Homo sapiens: one gene and its partners. The protein of the gene in region 1 purifies or fractionates together with the protein of each later gene. This does not show direct contact. Each region holds a gene or a part of one and is shown in the gene's direction. Other genes may lie near its edges.

Region 1 (4,617 bases):
ACCAGACAGGTCACATAGTGACAGTTCTCTGGGGATGAGATTTTGGCCCAGAGCTGCTTTTGTAGCTAGGCTGCTGGCATTCACAGTTACTGTGGTTCTGAGGCTGCTGGTTTCCAAGACTGCTATGGAACTGGGAAGAGGTGCATGGAAATTGAGAATGAGTAGGTTAAAACACCAGAAACTTCACCATTTTTACTAAGATTCAGCTACTTTTCTTAAATAGATGTTCAGGATTGTTGCAAATCTTTGATTAATTTTTTAGAGTTCTGCAAAAGTTGATTTTGACAATTTTGCCAGTGTTCTAATTGCTTTGTGATGAAATGAATTTTTAGAAATCCCTCATCCACCATTCCAGAAGTGCCTCTCAATCTGCCTGTGCTTTTAATCCCTATGCATATTGCCTCTCTATTTGATATCTAAATAATGGCCTATAAATATTTATTGGCAGCCATGAAAGTCCACTGTTTGATTTCATTGAGAGCTGCTTGCGAAATAAACATGAAATGGTTATTTATGAAGCTGCTTCAGCTATCATCCATCTTCCTAACTGCACTGCAAGAGAGTTGGCACCTGCTGTTTCAGGTTTGTTTTATATTTGATGGCTGGCTTTTATGTTCCTAAGTTTTTGCTTTAAGTTTCATAGGTCTACAGAATAGGTATTAAGAATGTTTTCTGAACACTAGCTCTGTGTATATATAGCCTTTGCATTCTGATAGCTTATATGTAGATAGTTTATTTTAGTTGTTCCTTACTTTATTACTTTTTTTAATGTTTCTATTTCTCCATATAAAACTTTTGAAAGAATTTTATTTATATGTACATAGTTTATTAATAATAGTTCTTTATTGCTTTTTTTTAAAGTTTCTGTTTCCTCGTATGAAACTTTTGAAAACATTTTACAGTTTTCCTTGGTGTTTAAAAAGCCCATTTGTTTTCAGAACTGTCAATATTTCTACCATTTAGTTCAGGTATTAATGGGTATTCTAATTTTTTTTTAAAAAGAGCAAACTTTGTTTCTTATTTAAGTTTTTATAACTGACCAAAAGTGCTTTTTCTTTTTTTTTTTTCTTTTTTTTTTTTTTTTTTGAGACGGAGTCTCACTCTGTCACTGAGGCAGGAGTGCAGTGGCACGATAGCTCGGCTCACTGCAAGCTCTGCCTCCTGGGTTCACGCCATGCTTCTGCCTCAGCCTCCCGAGTAGCTGGGACTACAGGCGCCCCAAAAGTGCTTTTTCTATTTTGATGTTACATTTTTCATGTAAATTTTTGATGCTGTGATAAAATGTATGCATATTTTGAATGTGATTCATTATGTACTATATTTTCAGCTATATGGTATATGATGAGATAAGGAATATTCACAGCATATATAGGTAATAGTCACTGTATCTATATCTGTATTTTACTTCTTCAACTTTTCTATAGTTCTCTTAAGCCAGGAGTATTCACGGTATGTATATGTAATATTACTTAATGTTACATATTATTATTATTATTTTTTTTTAGTTCTTCAACTTTTCTGTAGTTCTCCTAAGCCAGCCTTGAGATATGCAGCTGTGAGGACCTTGAACAAGGTAGGTGTTTCTTTGCTAATTATTGACTTATATCAGTATTTAATTGAGAAACATTAAATGTGAAGCATTTGGTTTTCTCTCCAAGGTTAGTATATGTGATTTATGGGCTTCACCTCTACAACACTTCACTTGTATTTGTGGCCTTGAGTATGCTCATTTTTATTATTATTTAGCTGAAGATTATAACTCATTTCTGACTTCTAAGCATTTTATATTCAAGAGCCACACTGTCCAATATGGTGGCCATTAGCCACCAGTGGCTATTTCAATTTAAATTAATTAAAATAAAAAATTCAACCCTCAGTCACATGAGTCACACTTCTTGTACTCACAGCCACATGTGGTCAGTGGCTGTTGGACAGTGCAGATCTTGAACATTTCTGTCATTGAAGAAAGTTCTCTTGCACAGTGCTGGTCTACAGCAGCCCTGTCCAGTAGAAACCCACTGTGAATCACATATGTAATATTAAATTTCATAATAACCACATTAAAATTTTTAAGGTAAAATTAATTTTAATAGTATATTTTATCATAATACATATAATATGTCATCTCAACATGTAATAGATATTTTTACATATCTCAAGTTTTTGACATCCAGTATATTTACATTTACAGCATACTCAGTTTGGATTAGCCACCTTTCAAATGCCTGGTAGTCACATGTTGCTGTTGGCTATGTTATTAGACAGTATAGATTTAGAGGATATAATACAGAAACACAGAATAAATTAAATAAGCATAGAAAATGTAAATGAAAGTTAAATGTAATAGAAGACTTGTCATAGGCAATACATAATTATAAATTAATTGTGTAAACAGTCGAAGAAAAGAGAAGTTTAGAGCAGCCATGGAAGAAACCTTTATAGAACAACAATTTAAATGGTTTTTTATTTATTTATTTTTTTTGGAGACAGAGTCTCACTTTGTCTCCCAGGCTAGAGTGCAGTGGCACGATCTTGGCACACTGCAACCTCCGCCTCCCAGGTTCAAGCGATTCTCATGCCTCAGCCTCCCAAATAGCAGGGATCACAGGCACCTGCCACCACGTCCGGCTAATTTTTGTATTTTTAGTAGAGACAGGGTTTCGCCATGTTGGCCAGGCTGCTCTCAAACTCGTGACCTCAGGTGATCTGCCCACCTCGGCCTCCCAGAGTGCTGGGATTGCAGGTATGAGCCACCAAGCCTGGCCTAAATTGTTTTTAAAGAGTTGATACAGGTCTACAATCCCTCATCTCTAATCTTGGGGCCAGATGTGTCTCAGAATTTGCTTTTAGTTAAATTTTAGAAAGGTTATATGGTGTTATCTCTTATTTACTAACCCCAGTGGGCCTGGGGCAGCATCCCACCATTAAAAAACATTAATATTTTTGCACAAAACATATGACTATCCTTGTCAAGTGGTATAAATTAAGAATTAAAGAGTTTCGCATTAGTTTGGGTCATGTTTTGCTGTTAAATGGATTTTCATCCCAGTGCTCTGCTTTCCAGAGTGTTTTCAGATTTTCCAAATTGTGGGTAAGGGATTCCATACCAATATTGGGATAGACAAAGAGGTGGGACAACATCAACAAAAACAAGGATGCAGGAGAATGGCAGACCATGTAGTAACCATAGATAATGCAGTTTGGCTGGAGTTTGCGTCTTGAAATGCAGCAGTATTTTTTAACTGATAAGATATTAACAGTCTTTGTCGAGCACTGACTACTATGCTAGATCCTGTTGTCAGTACTCCTAACATCTAATAGAATAGACGTATATGAACACACGTACTATAAGGAAATACAGGCCAATTATAATTTTTTAAAAATGGTAATGTTAGAAAGGTTAGAGGAACCTAACAAAAGAGAGTACGATGCTATACTCTGGCCGTTGATCATTTATTAAAAGATATACCTTGTTAACTGGAGCCATTCTTTTTGTTTTTGAAGCAATTACTTTTAACTTATCCTGTCCTCTTTGGATTGCCACTTACCTCAATTAAAATTTAAGTTCTGGCCTTTATCAAAAGCAATTTGCTTAATTTTTTTTCTTGCCCTTCCACAAGGTGGCAATGAAGCACCCCTCTGCTGTTACTGCCTGCAATCTGGACTTAGAAAACTTAATCACAGACTCAAACAGAAGCATTGCTACCTTAGCCATTACTACACTCCTCAAAACAGGAAGTGAGAGCAGTGTGGACCGGCTCATGAAGCAGATATCTTCTTTTGTGTCTGAAATCTCAGATGAGTTCAAGGTAAGAGTTTAAACATGATCATATTTTCTCCCAGTCTGTTGGCTGCCTATTTATTTTCTTAACGGTATCATTTGAGAAGCAGAAGTTTTAAATTTTTATGAAGTCTAATTTATCAATTTTTTTCTTTCATAGTTATTACTGTTCCCTAAGAAACCTTTATCTACTTGTTTTCTCATGCTTTAGGCTAAATGCTTTATGGTTTTAGATTTTACATTTTAGGCAATGATCCAACTTGAATTACTGTTTGTTTGGTAAGTTCAGTATTTTTTCCATACCTATATCTACTGTATTCCACCATAATTTGTTGGAAAGACTTCCTTTTCCCTGTTGGAGTGCTTTGGCACCTTTGTCTACAAAGCAAATACCCATATATTTTAGGTATATTTTTGGGCTTTGTATTATGTTACTGAACTGTTTGTCAATCCAGTACCAGTACCACACTAATATTGATTAATGTAGCATTATGGTACCTCTTAAGTAGTGCGGTCTTCCAACTTTTTCTTTTTTAATATTCTGGTTCCTTTGCATTTCCTATGAAATTTAGGACCAATTTATCAATTTCTACTAAACAAGCCTGCTAGGATTATGACTGGGATTGTGTTGAATCTATAAATCAATTTGGGGAGAACTGACATCTTAACATTATTTTTCTATTTCATGAATATGGTATATCTCTCCCTTTAGATCTTCTTTAATTTCTCTGAGCAGTGTTTTGTAGTGTTTACTCTAGAGGTCTTGCAAATCTGTTGTTAAATTTATATCTAAATATTTTATGCTTTTGATATTTTATTAAAATTTTTATTTTATT
Region 2 (4,617 bases), on another chromosome or scaffold:
TCCACCGTGCAGGTTCAAGTAATTCTCCTGCCTCAGCCTCTGGAGTAGCTGGGATTACAGGCACCCACCACCACGCCCGGCTAATTTTTGTATTTTTAGTAGAGATGGAGTTTCACCATGTTGGACCAGGGTGGTCTCGAACTCCTGACCTCAGGTGACACGCCTGCCTTGGCCCCCAAAGTGCTGGGATTACAGGTGTGAGCCACCATGTCTAGCCTGAATGAATTTCCTTCTTGCTTTCTTTTCACTTTTTTTTTTTGAGACGGAGTGTCACTCTTTTGCCCAGGCTGGAGTGCAGTGGTGCAATCTCAGCTCACCACAACCTCCACCTACTGGGTTCAAGCGATTCTCCTGCCTCAGCCTCCTAAGTAGCTGGGATTACAAGCACGTGCCACCACACCGGGCTAATTTTGTATTTTTAGTAGAGATGGGGTTTCTCCATGTTGGTCAGGCTGGTCTGGAACTCACAACCTCAGGTGATCTGCCCGCCTCGGCCTCCCAAAGTGCTGGGATTGCGCAGGTGAGCCAGCACGCCCGGCCCCTTGCCTTCTCTTCTCTTCTCTTCTCTTTAAGACAGTCTCTCGCTATATTGGCCAAGTTGGTCTTGAACTCCTGGCCTCAAGCAATCCTGCCATCTCAGCTTCTCTAAGTGCTAGGATTACAGGCGTGGATGCTGTGCCTGGCCTGAATTTCAAATTAATTAGTTATCTTTGTGCTTTGGTAGGGAAACTCTGGTAAGGAAAGTATAATATAGTTAGTGCTTAATTTTGAACTATAGAATTAATAGCTTCTAAAACTTTTTGAGTTATTACTAGTGATATGCAAAATACAACCACCTAAAGATCTTTTTGAGCTTATATCTAGGACCTGTTGGGCAATATGCTGAACCTTCATAAGCCTTCATTTCCTTCTTTTTTTTTTTTTTTGAGACCAAGTCTCACTCTGCCACCCAGGCTGGAGTGCAGTGGCGCGATCACGGCTCACTGCAGCTTCTGCCTCCCGGTTCAAGCAATTCTTCTCCCTCAGCCTCTTCAGTAGCTGGGACCACAGGCGTGCGACACCACGCATGGCTAATTTTTTTTTTTTTCTGTATTTTTATAGAGACGGGGCTTTACCATGTTGGCCAGGCTGGTTTTGAACTCCTGACCTCAAGTGATCAGCTTGCCTTGGCCTCCCAAAGTGCTGAGATTGTAAATGTGAGCCACTGAGCCTGGCCATTTCCTTCTTCTTAAAATGGAGCAGTATTATTTACATCAAAGAGTTGTTCTGAGGATTAAATAATATATATATATGTGTATATATATATCTAAATAAAGCTTAGCAGTGGCAAACACTATTATTGATAGACATTGTTTTATTTCCACTTTTGGACTGTTTTGAGTAAAGCTGATAATGAACTTTCTGTTTTTGAGATAGAGTCTTGCAATATTGTCCAGGTTGGTCTTGAACTCCTGGGCCCAAGTAATCCTCCTGCCTCAGCTCTCCAAGTAGCTGGGACTATATGTGCGAGCCACCATGCCCAGCTCAACATTCTTGTATATATGTTTTTTGGTGGACATAGGCATTCATTTCTCTTAGGTGTATACCTAGGAGTAGAATTGCTGGATCACAGATATATTTAATTTTTGTAGATACAGCCAAACAGTTTTTTGAAGTGGCTTTAGTATTTTGTGCTCCTATCAGAATGTGTGAGAATTGCGGTTGCTTCATACCCTGTCCCACAGTTGATATTGTCAGTCTTTAAATTTTAGCCATTCTGATGGGCAGGTAGTGGTATCTTATTGTGGTTTTAATTTAGATTTCCCTGTTAAGTAATGATATGGAAGTACCTTTTAATAGGATTTGTATATCTTTTTCTTACAAAGTGCCTGTTATTTTTTTCTTATGGATTGCTATGTTGATGCTGGATGTGGGTCCTTTGGAAACAGATATTGTGAATACTCTTCCCTAGCCCATGGCTTGCATTTTTACTTATTGAAGTCTTTAAGTGAACAAAGTTTTTAATTTTAATGAAGTCTGTGTTGTCATTTTATTTTCTTTTATGGATAGTACTTTTTTTCTTTGAGACAGGGTCTTTTTTTTTTTAACAACATTTTATTTTATTTATTTTTTATTATTATTATACTTTAAGTTTTAGGGTACATGTGCACAATGTGCAGGTTAGTTACATATGTATACATGTTCCATGCTGGTGTGCTGCACCCATTAACTTGAGACAGGGTCTTATCTGTCACCCAGGTGGGAGTGCAATGGCATGATCTCGGCTCACTGCAACCTCTGCCTCCCAGTTTCAAGTTATTCTCGTGCCTCAGCCTCCCGAGTAGCTAGGACTTACAGGTGCGTGCCACCACACCCAGCTAATTTTTGTATTTGTTGGTAGAGATGGGGTTTCGTCATGTTGGCCAGGCTGGTCTTGAACTCCTGACCTCAAGTGATCCACCCACCTCGGCTTCCCAAAGTGCTGGGATTACAGGGGCGAACCACTGTGCCCTGCCCTTTTATGGTTAGTATTTTTGTGTCCGTTTTTTGTTTTGTTTAGTTTTGTCACCCAGGTTGGAGTACAGTGGTGTGGTCATAGCTCACTGTAACCTCAAACCCCTGGGCTCAAGCAGTCTTCCTGCCTCAGCCTCCCAAGTAGCTAGGACTACAGGTATACACCACTACATATGGCTAATTTTTTAAATTTCATAGCGCTGGGTTTCACCGTTTCCCAGGCTAGTCTGAAACTCCTGGCCTCAAGTAATCTTTCTGCTTTGGTTTCCCAAAGTGCTGTGATTATAGGCATGAGCCATTGAGCCTGGCCCTGTCCCCTGTTTAAGAAGTTTTTGTTTTCCCTATATTCAAAAACATATTTTAAATATTTGACACTGATTTTTTTTCTCTGCATGAACATAGATGATGCCATGGAGAGCAGCAAGCCTGGTCCAGTGCAGGTTGTTTTGGTTCAGAAAGATCAACATTCCTTTGAGCTAGATGAGAAAGCCTTGGCCAGCATCCTCTTGCAGGACCACATCCGAGATCTTGATGTGGTGGTGGTTTCAGTGGCTGGTGCCTTCCGAAAGGGCAAGTCCTTCATTCTGGATTTTATGCTACGATACTTATATTCTCAGGTAAGATAGAATTATTTTATTTCAAGTAAAAAGTGAGACTTTAATGTCCAAAAAAGCGAAATAAGCTCATAGATTATCCTTGATGCATAAAATTTTTAATTTAAGATTTAATAGAAATTTCTTACTTCTGTAGAAGGAAAGTGGCCATTCAAATTGGTTGGGTGACCCAGAAGAACCGTTAACAGGATTTTCCTGGAGAGGGGGATCTGATCCAGAAACCACTGGGATTCAAATCTGGAGTGAAGTTTTCACTGTGGAGAAGCCAGGTGGGAAGAAGGTAAGGATGAAAATGACCTTACAGATTAACAACAACAACAACAAAATATGAACTTCAGCATGTACTGTGTTAACCCAATTAAAAACCTTTTATCAAAGAATTTAAAATGGGTAAAGTAAGAAAAGTTAAAAAGTCCCTGTTTTGTCCTGAAATTTTAGTCTGTTGTGGATAAATAGGATTTTCTGACACAGGTATGCGAAGTTGTAGCTCTGATGTCTAGCTGTAGTCTCCTTGGTCTGCTGATTGCATTATTTTAATTTTCTTTTCTGGAAAAACATTTTTGCTAAAAGCTATACAGACTTTTTTGTTTGTACCTAGCAGTACTTTATGTAGTATTCCTTAGGGCTATGTAGCATTTTTAGACTCAGTTAAAAAATATTAATCTGTTGCTGACTCTGTTAATTCCTATTTCAACATGTGTTTCCTTGAATAATTCAGGATACAACTTACTGTGTATGACAGCTTTCCTTCACACACTATTTTTGTGGGTGTGTGTATATCCAACTTGGGGAGAATTTAAAAAACACATAGCTTTTTAATTTGTTTGAAACAGACCTTCTGCCTGTTACATTTTGTGCTCTTAACCAATTAAAGAAGCCAGTGGCAGCCGGGTGCTGTGGCTCACGTCTGTAATACCAACACTTTGGGAGGCCAGGGTGGGCAGATCACAAGGTCAGGAGTTTGAGACCAGCCTGGCCAACATAGTGAAACCCTGTCTCTACTAAAAATACAAAAAATTAGCTGGGTGTGGTGGTGGGTGCCTGTAATCCCAGCTACTTGGGAGGCTGAGGCAGGAGAAACGCTTGAACCCGGGAGGCAGAGGTTGCAGTGAGCCGAGATCACACCACTGTCCTCCAGCTCGGGCGACAGTACGAGACTCCGTCTCAAAAAAAAAAAAAAAAAGCCAATGGCATTTTTAGTTTCATATTGTGTTTTCCACTGGTATATACCTGTTGATTTGTTTGTGTCTTTTATGAACTGTTATTTTCTGAAATTTTTTTTCAATAAAAGGAAGGAAGATGTGAAAACAACTTTTTATCAAAGTGAATGATTTAAAATTAATACATATTGATTGTTTTTAAGATTCTTAAATAAAATGCATGAATATAGTTTAAAAGGTCAGGTACTACTGTAAGGCTTCTAACAGAAAGCAGCTGTCATGTGTGTTATTCTCCTCTCTACCCAGTTTTCACTTCCCAGAGGCTGATGCTCTTATGTGTTACCACTTCT
Region 3 (4,617 bases), on another chromosome or scaffold:
CATGGTAAATGGAGAGCTTTTTAAAAATTTCAGTGAATGAATTTGTGGGATGCCAAAAGTTGGTTTAATTTCACCTTTATCAGAATGGGGGAGTTGATTTTTGCCATTTCCTAATCTTTTTTATCTTTTTGTATTTTTTTCCTTATTTTTTTCCCCCCCGAGATAGGGGCTAGCCTTGTTGCACAGGCTGGAGTGCAGTGGCTCAATCATAGCTCGCTGCAACCTTGAACTTCTGGGGTGCACCCCCCACCCCCGCCATTTCAGCTTACTATGTAGCTAGGTCTACAGGCTTGCACTACCCTGCTGGGCCAGGGGTTGATTTTTTTGTTTTGTTTTGTTTTGTTTCGTTTTGAGATCGAGTCTTGCTCTGTCACTCAGGCTGGAGTGCAGTGGCACAGTCTTGGCTCACTGCAACCTCCACCTCTGGGTTCAAGAGATTCTTCTGCCCCAGCCTCCCAAGTAGCTGGGACTACAGGCACCCGCTACCACGCCTAATTTTTGTATTTTTTAGTAGAGACGGGTCTTACCACGTTGGTCAGGCTGGTCTCAAACTTCTGACCACAAGTGATCCGCCCGCCTTGGGCTCCCAAAGTGCTGGGATTACAGGCATGAGCCACTGTGCTGGCTGGGTTGATTTTTTTTTTTTTTTTTTTTTTTTTTTTTTTTTTGGGACAGAGTCTCACTCTGTCTCCCAGGCTGGAGCGCAGTGGCGCGATCTTGGCTCACTGTAACCTCCGCCTCCCAGGTTCAAGTGATTCTCTTGCCTTAGCCTCCCGAGCAGCTGAGATTACAGGTGCCCGCCACCGTGCCCGGCTAATTTTTGTATTTTTAGTAGAGACAGACCAGGCTGGTTTCAAACTCCTGACCTCAGGTGATCCACCCACCTCGGCCCCCAAAGTGCTGGGATTACAGGTGTGAGCGACCGCCCGGTCTTGATTTTCTTTCTTTTTTTTTTTTTTTTTTTTTGACGGAGTCTCGCTGTCGCCCAGGTTGGAGTGCAGTGGCGGGATCTCGGCTCACTGCAGGCTCCGCCCCCCGGGGTTCACGCCATTCTTCTGCCTGAGCCTCCCGAGTACCTGGGACTACAGGCGCCCGCCACCTCGCCCGGCTAATTTTTTGTATTTTTTTTAGTAGAGACGGGGTTTCACCGTGTTAGCCAGGATGGTCTCAATCTCCTGACCTCGTGATCCACCTGCCTCGGCTTCCCAAAGTGCTGGGATTACTGGCGTGAGCCACCGCGCCCGGCTTTGATTTTTTTTAATGACAAATCCGAGAGGAGTTTTGACGGGAAAACACCCCTGTTCTTAGAATTTTTTCAAGATGGCTATTAATAGCATCTTCATAAATTGCTGTTTTCTTTTTATCAGCACTTTAATTTTTATTTTTTATTTATGTACTTATTTTTGAGATAGGGTCTCAAATATGCAGCCTCCACCTTCTGGGCTCAAGTGAACCTCCTGCCTTAGTCTCCTGAGTAGCTGGGACTTACAGGTGTGTGCCACCATGCCTGGCTAATTAAAAAAAAAAAATTGGCCGAGCATGGTGGCTCACGACTGTAATCCCAGCACTTTGGGAGGCTAAGGCGGGTGGATGACAAAGTCAGGAGTTCGAGACCAGCCTGACCAACATAGTGAAACCCCGTCTCTACTAAAAAAATTTATTTATTTTTTCTTTGAGACAGAGTCTTACTCTGTCGCCCAGGCTGGAGTGCAGTAGAGCAGTCTCGGCTCACTCTACCTTCTGAGTTCAACTGATTCTCGTGCCTCTGCCTCCCAAGTAGCTGGGATTACAGGCATGTGCCACCACGCCCAGCTAATTTTGTATTTTTAGTAGAGATGGGGGTTTCACTATGTTGGTCAGGCTGGTCTTGAACTCCTGACCTCAGGTGATCCACCCACCTTGGCCTCCCAAAGTGCTGGGATTACAGGTGTGAGGCACTGCACCTGGCCTGACATGTACATTTTCAAGAAAAAGCTAGATCCATTCAGAAAGGTTTTACCCATTTATTCATCAGGGTTAGGTTTGTGCTTGTTTGCAAGTATCTTTGTTCACAGTGGGTGTTAATTAAAAATAAATGCCAACATATAGGTAAAAATGGGCATATTACAGTTTAATTTGCAATTTTTTGATTGTAGTTGATGTTGGAATAGTGATATGGAAATTGAAAATGTGAATTAGTTTATTTACTTTTTTAGAGATGAGGTATCACTATGTTGCCCAGGCTAGTCTCGAACTCCTGGGGTTAAGCGATCCTCCAACCTCCACCTCTCAGTGCTGGGATTACAGGCGTTAGTTACTGTGCCCAGCTCTGACTTCTTTTTATTAATTGCTTTTTAATATTTTTTGAGCATTTCCCAGTATTTCTTTTATTGTTTTGTAAAAGCCTGTTTGCATGCAGGAAATTATTTTTCATATTTGCTTTTTAATTTTGTATTTTTTTGGTGAGAATTGTGTGTGTTGGTTTCTTTCATGTTTTTCTTAAATAAATTGGCAATTTTTTTGAACTTATTAGTGGTAGTCTTAGTCTTTAGGCATGCTATTGGAGTGCTTTTAAAAAGTTGTTATGGCTGGGTGCAGTGGCTCATGCCTGTAATCCCAGCACTTTGGGAGGCCAAGGCGGGCGGATCACCTGAGGTGGGGAGTTCGAGACCAGCCTGACCAACATGGAGAAACCCCGCCTCTACTAAAAATACAAAATTAGCCGGGCGTGGTGGCACATGCCTGTAATCCCAGCTACTAGGGAGGCTGAGGCAGGAGAATCGCTTGAACCTGGGAGGTGGAGGTTGAGGTGAACTGAGATTGCACCATTGCGCTCCAGCCTGGGCAACAAGAGTGAAACTCCGTCTCAAATTAAAAAAAAAAAAAAAAAGTCCTTATTTTAGAGTCCAGGTGCGGTGGCTTACGCCTGTAATGCCAGCACTTTGGGAGGCTGAGGTGGGTGGATCATGAGGTCAGGAGATAGAGGCCATCCTGGCTAACACAGTGAAACCCCATCTCTACTAAAAATACAAAAAATTAGCCGGGCGTGGTGGCAGGCGCCTGTAGTCCCAGCTGTTGGGGAGCCTGAGGCAGGAGAATGGTGTGAACCCGGAAGGTGGAGCTTGCAGTGAGCCGAGATTGCGCCACTGCACTCCAGACTGGGAGAGAGAGCGAGACTCCTCAAAAAAAAAAAAAAGTTGTTTTAGGCCGGGCGTGGTGGTTTACGTTTGTAATCCCAGCACTTTAGGAGGCCAAGGTGGGAGGATCACCTGAGGTCAGAAGTTCGAGACCAGCCCGGACAACATGGTGAAACCCCATCTCTACTAAAAATACAAAAATTAGCTGGGCATGGTGGCAAGCGCCTGTAATCCCAGCTACTCCAGAGGCTGAGGCTGGAGAATCACTTGAACCCTGGAGGCGGAGGTGGCAGTGAGCCGAGATCGCGCCATTGCACTCCAGCCTGGGTGAAAAGAGTGAAACTCCGTCTCAAAAAAAAAAAAAAAGTTGTTTTAAATGGGCGGTTTTTTTTTTTTTTTTTTTTTTGAGATGGATTCTTGCTCTGTTCCCCGGGCTGGAGTGCAGTGGCTCACTGCAAGCTCCGCCTTCCGGGTTCATGGTATTCTCCTGCCTCAGCCTCTGTAGTAACTGGGACTACAGGCGCCCGCCACCATGCCCGGCTAATTTTTTTTTGTATTTTTAATAGAGACGGGGTTTCACCGTGTTAGCCAGGATGTTCTCGATCTCCTGACCTCGTGATCTGCCCGCCTTGGCCTCCCAAAGTGCTGAGATTATAGGCATGAGCCACCGCGCCCGGCCTTAAATTGTTAATCATATATTGATTGTTTATTCGTATCTCTTTTTATTGTCGGAGAGTGGGCATCTGTTTCAGTGCCTAGTAGCGTGGTAGAAGAAAAGCAAGCTTAGAAGCTAGGTTCAGATCTCTACAAATAAGTTTTAGTTTCTTAAAACCTAAAAAAAAACCTACCTGAAAAGTTCTAAGATTAAAAGATAATGTCTTGGCTGTGTGCGGTGGCTCGTGCCTTTAATCCCAGCACTTTGGGAGGCTGAGGCTGCAGGATGGAGCTGAGCCTGGGCGACATAGTGAGACTCTGTTGCTAAAAAAAATAATAATAGTAATAAAGATAATGTCTTAAAGTGTTTGGCATGTACTAAGTGCACAAAGTTATCATCTCTTCTCTTGAGGGTAGGACATGAAGGGGCTGGGGTTAGTTTTCTTTTGGGACTAGAGGCCGGAATGGGACAGGCAAATAGAGGACCATACTTAGACAAATAATTAGCTTTTTTCCCTTGATAGTTTTAGTTGACATACTGTGTACCTACCTTATAAAAGGGCTTTTGAGCTGCTTATAGTGAATACCTACAAAAAATAATGTAGACAGATGCTTGTTCTAAGCTTTCACGTAGATCATAGAGACTTTATGCATATTTGTGAGTTAAGTTTATCGTTAAGCTTATATGTTCTGAAGTAGAAATTGCCGTGTGCTAGAGTTGTTGAGGAATACTTCATGGAAGAGGGAGGCTTTGTCGTGCTTTGAAGAATGGGTAGATCTTAGAGAGCAAAGTGTAGGCTATGCCACTGGTTTGAAGATAAAAAAGATAGGCAGTATTTTGGTAACT
Region 4 (4,617 bases), on another chromosome or scaffold:
ATATTGTTCCCCACTTTTTCGGTGAGTCAGCCTTCCTCAGAAACCACACTTCAAAAATAGCTTTTTCGGCTAGAAAATTGGAACTCAGTGCAAAGCTGCCTGTACTCCTCAGGAAATATTTTGCTGCCTCTTTGGTGGTTCTTTTTGGCCTTGCAGCCTGACAGGAGTCACCAAATGTGGCCTTGAGTTGATCCGAGGATTTCTGTTATGGCAAACTTTTATTGCCAACTTTGCAATTGGTGGCCTTGGACAAATTTATTAACTTGTATATTCTTTAGCTTGCTTACGTGTAAAATGAGGTGGGTTAGCAAGATCCTTCCTAGCTCTAAAATTTTGTGAGATTTTTTTTTCCCCTTTCAGTAACTTGTGGTAAAACTATAGACATAGCTACTGAATCACGTTGGGAAGTTTAGGACCTGTATCCACACCCACTAATAGCCACCTTGTTTCAGAGAGAAATGAGAGTGCAGAGGGATTTTCCAGGATGATCCTTGGTTATAGTAGGTTACTTAGAGTGTGGGGGAAATCCTTAAAGCCGGTTAACATGACAGAATGGGTTCTACTGTGAGTTGCTGCCACAACTGGCACCCTTGTTTTCTTGTTTCTCTCCTGGATCCCTTTGGATATGTTTCTTCTCTGGGCCTCAGTTTAGTTATCTGTATAATTGGACTAGACTGATTCATCTTTGAAGACTGCTACAAAATTTCTGTGATGGGATTCTAAACCTTTTTATAACCATAAATGACTGCTCTAGAATGTGTAACTATTATAGGGAAAGATTTATTAATTATTTATTGGAATTGGGTAATACATGTTCATATTTTAAATATATATAATTAAAATATATACAAACATATGTATTAATATATTTTTAATTTCACAATAGAAAAACATAACGGTTTTTGAGTTGCAAAACTAGGTCCTGCTGTTTCTCCCTTCTTTCTCACCATCCCTCGTTCTTTTTTTTTTTTTTGAGACGGAGTCTGGCTCTGTCACCCACGCTGGAGTGGCACAATCTCAGCTCACTTCAACCTCCACCTCCCAGGTTCAAGTGATTCTCGTGTCTCAGCCTCCTGAACAGCTGGGATTACAGGCATGCGCCACCACGCCCAGCTAATTTTTATGTTTTTAGTAGAGATGGGGTTTCGCCATGTTGGCCAGGCTGGTCTCAAACTCCTAGCTTCAGCTGATCCACCCACCTCAGCCTCCCAAAGTTCTGGGATTACAGTTATGATCCACCGCACCCAGCCCTCTTTCTTACTCTAGGACTATCAGTAAGTGAAACTCCACCCAGCAGACCACAGAGGCAGCTGTCTACATGAAAGATGGGTGGCATGTTTATGGAAAGTTTTGTCCTAAAAGTCTTTGGGGTTTGTCGTGATTGCTGTGATAAACAGCCCAACTGTTGACTAAAAAGCATCTCAGGCAAGAACTGGTTCCCAGATTTCTGAGAATTTCTGTTAATCTGTAGAGGGTGTGTGTGTGTGTGTCTGTCTGTCTGTCTGTCTGTCTTTTGTTCCAAATACAGGTAAGTGCCAGGGCATTGGAGTGGTATACATTTTATCAGATACAGAAGAAAATAATTTCTGCTCAGAGTAACTTCGTTAGTTTTTTTCCAGCTTGGAAACTTGCTTGCTTTCTAATTATAGACTGTTGTTGGGCAGGTTATGAACTAAAACCAGTTCTATAGAACTTCAGGCTCTGTTCTTTTCTCTTGGACATGAGCAACCAGAACAGGTGAAACAAATTTGGAATTGCTTGAGTTAGGCCTGGATTTTTCATTGTTCCTTGTCCTGGACTTTAGGCACTCAACCTAAATATGTATTTTACTTGTCTAGAGGAAAATAAAAACAGCTTGACATGAATTTTGTTATATGCTTCACTTCATGAATTATTATTTTAATAAGTATTCCAGAATGAACTGAGTAGGAGCCCTTTGATGCTTTGCTGCCAGCCAACCCACTCCTACTTGCAGGGTATGCAAAGGAATTTCCTTGAATTTCAATCCTCCATTTGAGTTCTTTGTGTTGATTTGATCTTTGTTTTGCTTTGCTTTTTTTTTTTTTTTTTTTTTTTTGAGACGGAATCTCGCTCTGTCACCCAGGCTGGAGTGCAGTGGCACAATCTCGGCTCACTGCAGCCTCCGCCTCCCGGGTTCAAGCAATTCTCCTGCCTCAGCCTCCCAAGTAGTTGGGATTACAGGCACATGCCACCAAGCCAGGCTTAGTTTTGTACTTTTAGTAGAGACGGGGTTTCACCATGTTGACCAGGATGGTCTTGATCTCCTGACCTTGTGATCCACCTGCCTCAGCCTCCCAAAGTGCTGGGATTACAGGTGTGAGCCACTGTACCTGGCGATCTTTGTTTTTCTTTACGGCTCAGAAGAAACATTTGGGTAGGTTATAGGTCAAAGTCAAGGCTTTGTAAAGGGTTTTTTACATTCAGGAGCCTTTCCCCAATTTCATTTGTTCATTTTTAAATACCAATTTTTTTTATTCATCAAGGAATACATGGCCATTGAAAAAAATATGAAAATAAAAATAAGCAAATGGAAATAAACTCCCCTTATCCTACTATACTGTAGTCTTTGGTATAATTTTTCAGTTTCTCTAAGTATCTTTTTATTTTTTAATTGAGACAGGATCTCACTCTGTTACCCAGGCTAGAGTATAGTGGCACCATCACAGCTCCCTGCAGCCTTGACCTCTGAGCTCAGATGATCCTCCTACCTCAGCTTTCCAAGTAGTGGGGACTATAGGTGTGTGCTGCCACACCTGGCTAATTTTTGTGGGGTGTTTTTTTTTTTTTTTGGAGAGATGGGGTTTCGCCATGTTGCCTAGGATGGCCTCAAACTCCTGGGCTCAAGCGATGCATCCGCCACCTCGGCTTCCCAGAGTGCTGGGATTACAGACATGAGCTACCACACTGGCTTAGAATCTTTTGTGATGCTGGGAATTAGATAATATTAATCTATAAGAGTTTCAAGGCCTCTTCATTCACTCTCCACTCTCTACAACCTGCTGAAGGGGATTGTGGTTTTGATTCATCAGATTCTTTCCTTCCTCAGGCGTATAAGGGAATTTTTTCTTTCCCAGACCAATTCCGGGGTTGTCTCAGAAGACAGGGCATAATCCAGATAAAATAAAACAGAAAGAAAGTGCAGAGAGGCCAAGTAGACCCAGGTAACACAGAACCAAGAGGGAGGGGAAGAGGGCAGAGAGAATAGCACATGTGCTGGGTATTGGGGAAGGTTGGGGCACTGGGGTGCTATAGACTGGCACAAGAGGATCTGGAGGATGAGCAGAAAACCAGGATTTGGATTGGAGAAGGAACAGCTTCGCTGTGGTTCATGAACTGAAATTCCATTAATGTTGTTGGCGAGATGGGACAAGTAGAGATGGACTTTTGTGGTTGGTCTGTGCCAAGCGGCGGTTGTGGGTTGGAGAGCAGCTGCTTTTATGTTTTTGTATTTCCTTTTTTATATATTCATTTTATTTCTGATTATGAAATAATATACTAATTATAGAAATTTCTATTTCTTTTTTTTTTGGAAACAGAGTCTCACTCTGTCACCCAGGCTGGAGTGCAGTGGCGCAATCTCGGCTCACTGCACCCTCTGCCTCCCGGGTTCAAGTGATTCTCCTGCCTCAGCCTACCAAGTAACTGGGACTACAGGTGCCTGCCACCATACCTGGCTTTTTTTTTTTTTTTTTTTTTGAGACATAGTTTTGCTCTTGTTGCCCAGGCTGGAGTGCAATGGCACCATCTCGGCTCACTACAACCTCCGCCTCCCAGGTTCAAGCAATTCTCCTGCCTCAGCCTCCGAGTAGCTGAGATTACAGGCTCCCGCCACCGAGCCCAACTAATTTTTTGTATTTTTAGTAGAGACAGGGTTTTACCATGTAGGCCAGGCTGGTCTTGAACTCCTGACCTCAGGTGATCTGCCCGCCTCAGCCTCCCAAAGTGCTGGGATTACAGACATGAGCCACCATGCCCAGCCCAGGCCCAGCTAATTTTTGTATTTTTAGTAGAGGTGGGGTTTCACCACGTTGGCCAGGCTGGTCTCAAACTCCTGACTTCAAAAGATCCACCCACCTTGGCCCCCACAAAGTGCTGGGATTACAGGCTTGAGCCACTGTACTCAGCCTAGAAACTTCTACTTCTGAGCTATCTAACTTATATGATAAATCTACCTAACAGACAATGCATTATGTATTACAATTGCTTTTACCCACTCAATATATAATGTCTTCCCATATTATTAAATGCACTTCAATGTTTTAAAAATAGCTGTGTATACAATACCACAGCTATTGGTATTGTTGGCCATATAGGTCGTTTCTGAAAGTTTTTAATCATAAATACCACTAATATCAATACTGTTACAACTCAATCTTTGCGTTTTTGTTTAATTCCTTAGACTATATTCTGAGGAGGGGATTTATTGGCTTGAAGGATACAAGTATTTGCAAGGATTTTGAATGAAATTAGCAACTTATTATTGTAGAGTTTAGTTTTAAATTATGTACAACTGGCTGGGTGCGGTGGCTCATGCCTGTAATAGCACTTTGGGAGGCTGAGGGGCGGGGGGGGTGGGGGGTGGATCACATGAGGTCA
Region 5 (4,617 bases), on another chromosome or scaffold:
TACAATGGTATTGTGAGGATTAAATATGAAAATGCAGGTAATACAGTGCCTAGCACATAGTAAATATGCAGTCAGATTTAGCACCAAATACAGGGCCTGCCACATAAGTAGTACTGGATAATTATTTGTTGAATGAATGATATGAATTATTTCACTAACAATTATCAGTGAAAGACATTGAGGCTTTTTGATAAACCAAAAATTTTGAATTACCAATTAAGGATAGCTCTTATACTCTAGCATTTGAAGCTCACTGAATTTGGATTAAAGAGTACTAGGTTCTAATTCTTGCTGTGCTGTGTCTAGAAGTATGACTTTGAACAAGTAACTTACATAACCTTTCGGGGGCCTCAGTTTTAATATCTGTAAAGTGAGGATGTAAAGTGAAGTAGATGGTCTTCAATTATCATTTAAATAATATGATTCTCTGGCTCTGGTACATTCTAGATTTCTTCCTCAGTTGTCATAATTCTTACAGGTAGTAACTTTTGGGCAATAAGGCATATAGGAATTATGCTACAAGAACTCCAGTGTCTAATTCTGGCAAATTCCTGTTTTAGCATGACCTTAGATGACTAGTCTAATTGGTTCAGCATCTTCCTTTGTTAATGTGATGATCATTATTTTGCCCTGCTTTGTATGTTGCAGTAAATAAAGTGCTGTGTAAATGCTAATTATTAGTGATTATCAACTGAATTATTTAATCTAGCGTGAGAGATGTAAAGGGCTATGGAAGTTCAGGATATTTGTCACTGACCAAAGTCTATGATTAGTGTATGTTTTTAGATTGTAATTAAAGAAGACCGGTATAGTTAGACCAAGAAGTTTAAAGGCCTTTCTTGCAGCTTTCAAAAGTGAAAACCTTTTAAAATTGTCTTATTTATGAATAAATCTTTAAAAATATAATCCATTTCATTGCAGTGAAATAAATAAATAAAAACATAAACCATTTCAGTAAAATGCATCAGTGTCTAGTTTTATTTATTTATCTTTTTTTTTTTTTTTTTAATTTTTTGAGACAGAGTCTCACTCTGTTGCCCAGGCTGGAGTGCAGTGGCGCGATCTCGGCTCACTGCAACCTCCACCTCCAGGGTTCAAGCGACTCTCCTGCCTCAGCCTTCCGAGTAGCTGGGATTACAGGCGTGTGCCACCACGCCCAGCTAATTTTTTGTATTTTTACTAGAGATGGGGTTTCACCATGTTGGCCAGGCTGGTCTCTCAAACTCCTGGCTTCAAGTGATCCGCCTGCGTTGGCCTCTCAAAGTGCTGGGATTTACAGGCCTGAGCCACCACACACAGCCGATTGTCTAGTTTTAAATACGTGTATCTGCATATTCTTCCTTTCTAAGGTAAAAACAGTGCTTTAATTATATTCTGCCTTAAGTTGTTTGGGAAAATAGGCAAAAGAAACAATGAAAGAATTAGTGGTTTTCTGTTTGTTTTTGCTATTTTATGGTATATTATGTAACAGCTTGTAATGAAGCCTTTATCATATTATAGTTGGTTGCTGAGTAATTAAGTTATGATAGACTCTCATAGTTTGGGGAAGAAAATCAGATCCCTGCCTCTCACATACCTAGTGTAGTGAAGATAGTTTTTTGTGTTTTAGTATCCAGATTGGCAGGATGCAAGGAAATAAGCATATAGTTTGGTGAAGTACATGTAAATTGTTACAGCCTTTCTGGAAGGCAGTTGGCAATATGTAACAGACCTAGAACTGCCCTAGCAATCTTGTTTTTAGGAATTCTTTTTTTTTTTTTTTTTTTTTTTTTTTGAGACAGAGTCTCGCTCTGTCGCCCAGGCTGGAGTGCAGTGGCGCAATCTCGGCTCACTGCAAGCTCTGCCTCCCGGGTTCACGCCATTCTCCTGCCTCAGCCTCCCGAGTAGCTGGGATTACGGGCGCCTGCTACCACGCCCGGCTAATTTTTTGTATTTTTTAGTACAGACGGGGTTTCACCATGTTAGCCAGGATGGCCTCAATCTCCTGACCTGGTGATCTGCCCACCTCGGCCTCCCAAAGTGCTGGGATTACAGGCGTGAGCCACCCGTGCCCGGCCCTTTTTTTTTTTTTTTTTTTTTTTTAAAGACAGAGTCTCACCGTGTTGCCCAGGCTGGAGTGCAATGGCACGATCTCGGGTCACTGCAACCTCCACCTCCCGGGTTCAAGCGATTCTCCTGCCTCAGCCTCCCAAGTAGCTGGGATTACAGGTGCCTGCCACCACGCCCGGCTAATTTTTTGTATTATTAGTAAAGACGGAGTTTCACTATATTGGCCAGGCTGGTCTCGAACTCCTGACCTCGTGATCCGCCCGCCTTGGCTTCCCAAAATACTGAGATTACAGGCGTGAGCCACGGAACCCAGCTGGAATTTATCCTTTTTTAAAAATGTGCAAAAATAACTACACAGATGTTCATTATAGCACAGTTTATGATAGTGGCAGATATCTCGGTGTCTTAACAATTAGAGATTGGTTGAGTATATTATGGTATAACTGTGCAATCGAATATTACACAGTCATTGAAGTTGTTAAAGTTTTGTTTTTTTTTTTTTTAAGAAATGGAAAAATATAGAAAAGTACAAAGGCAGCCTACACCCATATCTTCTCTATATGTAGAATTAACTTATGTTAATTGTTAGCATTGGTAGTCATATTTGCTTCCAAACTAAAGGACTCTTTGATTACCACCTGGCCACGCCCTCCATCTCCCCTTCCCCAGACGTAACACCGTCATGGACCTGGTACATCCTTCCAGTTTATTTTAAATAAATGTGTTTGTATTGTTTTATGCTTTTTAACCATTCATTCATGTTATCATGTTTGTTGTATAACGTTTTCCATTCAACATTAGGTTTTTAAACTTCTTTCATGTTGGAATTTATATAATTTATTCATTTTAACAGCTATGTAGTAATCCATTATATGAATATATTATTTTCTTTTGGTAAGGATTTAGATTCTTTCCTATTTTTTGCTATTATAGACAGCGCTGAAGTTAACATTCTTCTTTTTTTTTTTCCTTTTTCTTTTTCTTTTTTGAGATGGAGGAGTTTCACTCTGTCGCCCAGGCTGGAGTGCAGTGGTGCAATCTCCGCTCACTGCAAGCTCCGCCTCCCGGGTTCATGCCATTCTCCCGCCTCAGCCTCCTGAGTAGCTGGGACTACAGGCGCCTGCTACCACGCCCAGCTAATTTTATTTTTGTATTTTTAGTAGAGTCGGGGTTTCACTGTGTTAGCCAGGATGGTCTCAATCTCCTGGCCTCGTGATCCGCCCGCCTCGGCCTCCCAAAGTGCTGGAATTACAGGCATGAGCCACCGCGCCCGGCCTTAAGTTAACGTTGTTATACTTGTCTGTTTTTACACATATGTGACTATTTCCCCAGCGTTAGGGTGCTACTGCTTATCAGTTTCACTTCTAGCTCTGTGCCTTATTTTTCTAGTTACTGTCAAAGTTAGTGTCTTCTGTTATGTAAAAATGTTCGTAATTTATTAGTAAAAACTACATTGTTCAGCACCCAGCAGATGGTGGGTGCTAAAGTGGAATGAAAAGAGTTACCAAACAAGGAATACAAAATAATTCCTATCTTGGTATCATTTAAAGTGAATCTATGCTAGAAAGATTCCATAAAGAAAAAAAATGAATCTATATACCTACATATACAGGGAATCTGAAGTAATTTTTAAAAGCAATGTCAGAATGGTTTTCTTTTCTTATGGCCAAGTAGGCTTTTACTGGACCTGACCTTCCTGCATATAACTGGACAAAATTTTTAAAAAACAAAGACCCGAAGGCACTGGAGGATGAACGGGAGCAGTCAGATTCTGAAAGAGAGTTGACACATGTAAGAAGAGACAGCATGAAATTAGTTTTTTATTTTTACTGCTTTTAGCTAGAGGACAGGCTGAAGTGGGCACCTGACAGGCTGGCTTAAACCTTCATAGAAAACCTAAGCAGTGGACAGCATTTGGGTCAGCCACAACCACTGAGTCAGTGGAATGTAAGGGGAGGAGGAATCTTGGAAGGGAGAGATCCAGAGAGTGACAGCCTAAAATTCTGTAGATAAAATAAACTGTGTTTAAGCCTCTGTTTAATTGTAAACCACACTTAACACAAAAGATTATAAGCAGCACAACTAGAGATGAAAGAAGTGAACTGGGCCGGGTGCAATGGCCCACGCCTGTAATCCCAGCACTTTGGGAGGCCAAGGCGGGTGGATCACGAGATCAGGAGTTCAAGACCAGCCTGGTCAAGCTGGTGAAACCCCATCTCTACTAAAAATACAAAAATTAGCCGGGCACATTGGCAGGCGCCTGTAATCCCACCTACTCAGGTGGCTGAGGCAGGAGAATCGCTTGAACCCCTGGGGGTGGAGGTTGCAGTGAGCCAAGATCATGCCATTGCACTACAGCCTGGGTGACAGAGTAAGACTCCGTCTGAAAAAAAAAAAAAAAAAGAAGAAGTGAGCCGAGTTTGTAGTTTGAAGGCCAGGCACAGTGGCTCATGCCTGTAATCCCAGTACTTCAGGAGGCTGAAGCAGGTGGATCACTTGAGCCCAAGAGTTCAAGGCCAGCCTGGGCAGCATGGTGAAACCCCATCTCCACTAAAAAATACAAAATTA

What was found.
Region 2: the proteins of COPG2 (region 1) and ATL3 purify together in Homo sapiens (affinity purification with mass spectrometry, with the first as the bait; one large-scale study listed by BioGRID). This does not show direct contact.
Region 3: the proteins of COPG2 (region 1) and ATL2 purify together in Homo sapiens (affinity purification with mass spectrometry; one large-scale study listed by BioGRID and IntAct). This does not show direct contact.
Region 4: the proteins of COPG2 (region 1) and ARL6IP5 purify together in Homo sapiens (affinity purification with mass spectrometry; one large-scale study listed by BioGRID and IntAct). This does not show direct contact.
Region 5: the proteins of COPG2 (region 1) and RTN3 purify together in Homo sapiens (affinity purification with mass spectrometry; one large-scale study listed by BioGRID and IntAct). This does not show direct contact.

The regions. Positions count from the first base shown.
Region 1 is NC_000007.14:130,560,225-130,564,841, reverse strand, and holds part of COPG2 (coatomer subunit gamma-2), read left to right. Parts: intron 1-448; coding exon 449-582; intron 583-1,505; coding exon 1,506-1,573; intron 1,574-3,620; coding exon 3,621-3,809; intron 3,810-4,617. UniProt on the Homo sapiens protein: The coatomer is a cytosolic protein complex that binds to dilysine motifs and reversibly associates with Golgi non-clathrin-coated vesicles, which further mediate biosynthetic protein transport from the ER, via the Golgi up to the trans Golgi network.
Region 2 is NC_000011.10:63,657,531-63,662,147, reverse strand, and holds part of ATL3 (atlastin-3), read left to right. Parts: intron 1-2,895; coding exon 2,896-3,110; intron 3,111-3,185; exon of another isoform or gene 3,186-3,243; coding exon 3,244-3,387; intron 3,388-4,617. UniProt on the Homo sapiens protein: Atlastin-3 (ATL3) is a membrane-anchored GTPase that mediates the GTP-dependent fusion of endoplasmic reticulum (ER) membranes, maintaining the continuous ER network. It facilitates the formation of three-way junctions where ER tubules intersect.
Region 3 is NC_000002.12:38,366,500-38,371,116, reverse strand, and holds part of ATL2 (atlastin-2), read left to right. Parts: intron 1-4,617. UniProt on the Homo sapiens protein: Atlastin-2 (ATL2) is a membrane-anchored GTPase that mediates the GTP-dependent fusion of endoplasmic reticulum (ER) membranes, maintaining the continuous ER network. It facilitates the formation of three-way junctions where ER tubules intersect.
Region 4 is NC_000003.12:69,094,545-69,099,161, forward strand, and holds part of ARL6IP5 (PRA1 family protein 3), read left to right. Parts: intron 1-4,617. UniProt on the Homo sapiens protein: Regulates intracellular concentrations of taurine and glutamate. Negatively modulates SLC1A1/EAAC1 glutamate transport activity by decreasing its affinity for glutamate in a PKC activity-dependent manner.
Region 5 is NC_000011.10:63,722,427-63,727,043, forward strand, and holds part of RTN3 (reticulon-3), read left to right. Parts: intron 1-3,723; coding exon of another isoform or gene 3,724-3,740; exon of another isoform or gene 3,741-4,617. UniProt on the Homo sapiens protein: May be involved in membrane trafficking in the early secretory pathway. Inhibits BACE1 activity and amyloid precursor protein processing. May induce caspase-8 cascade and apoptosis.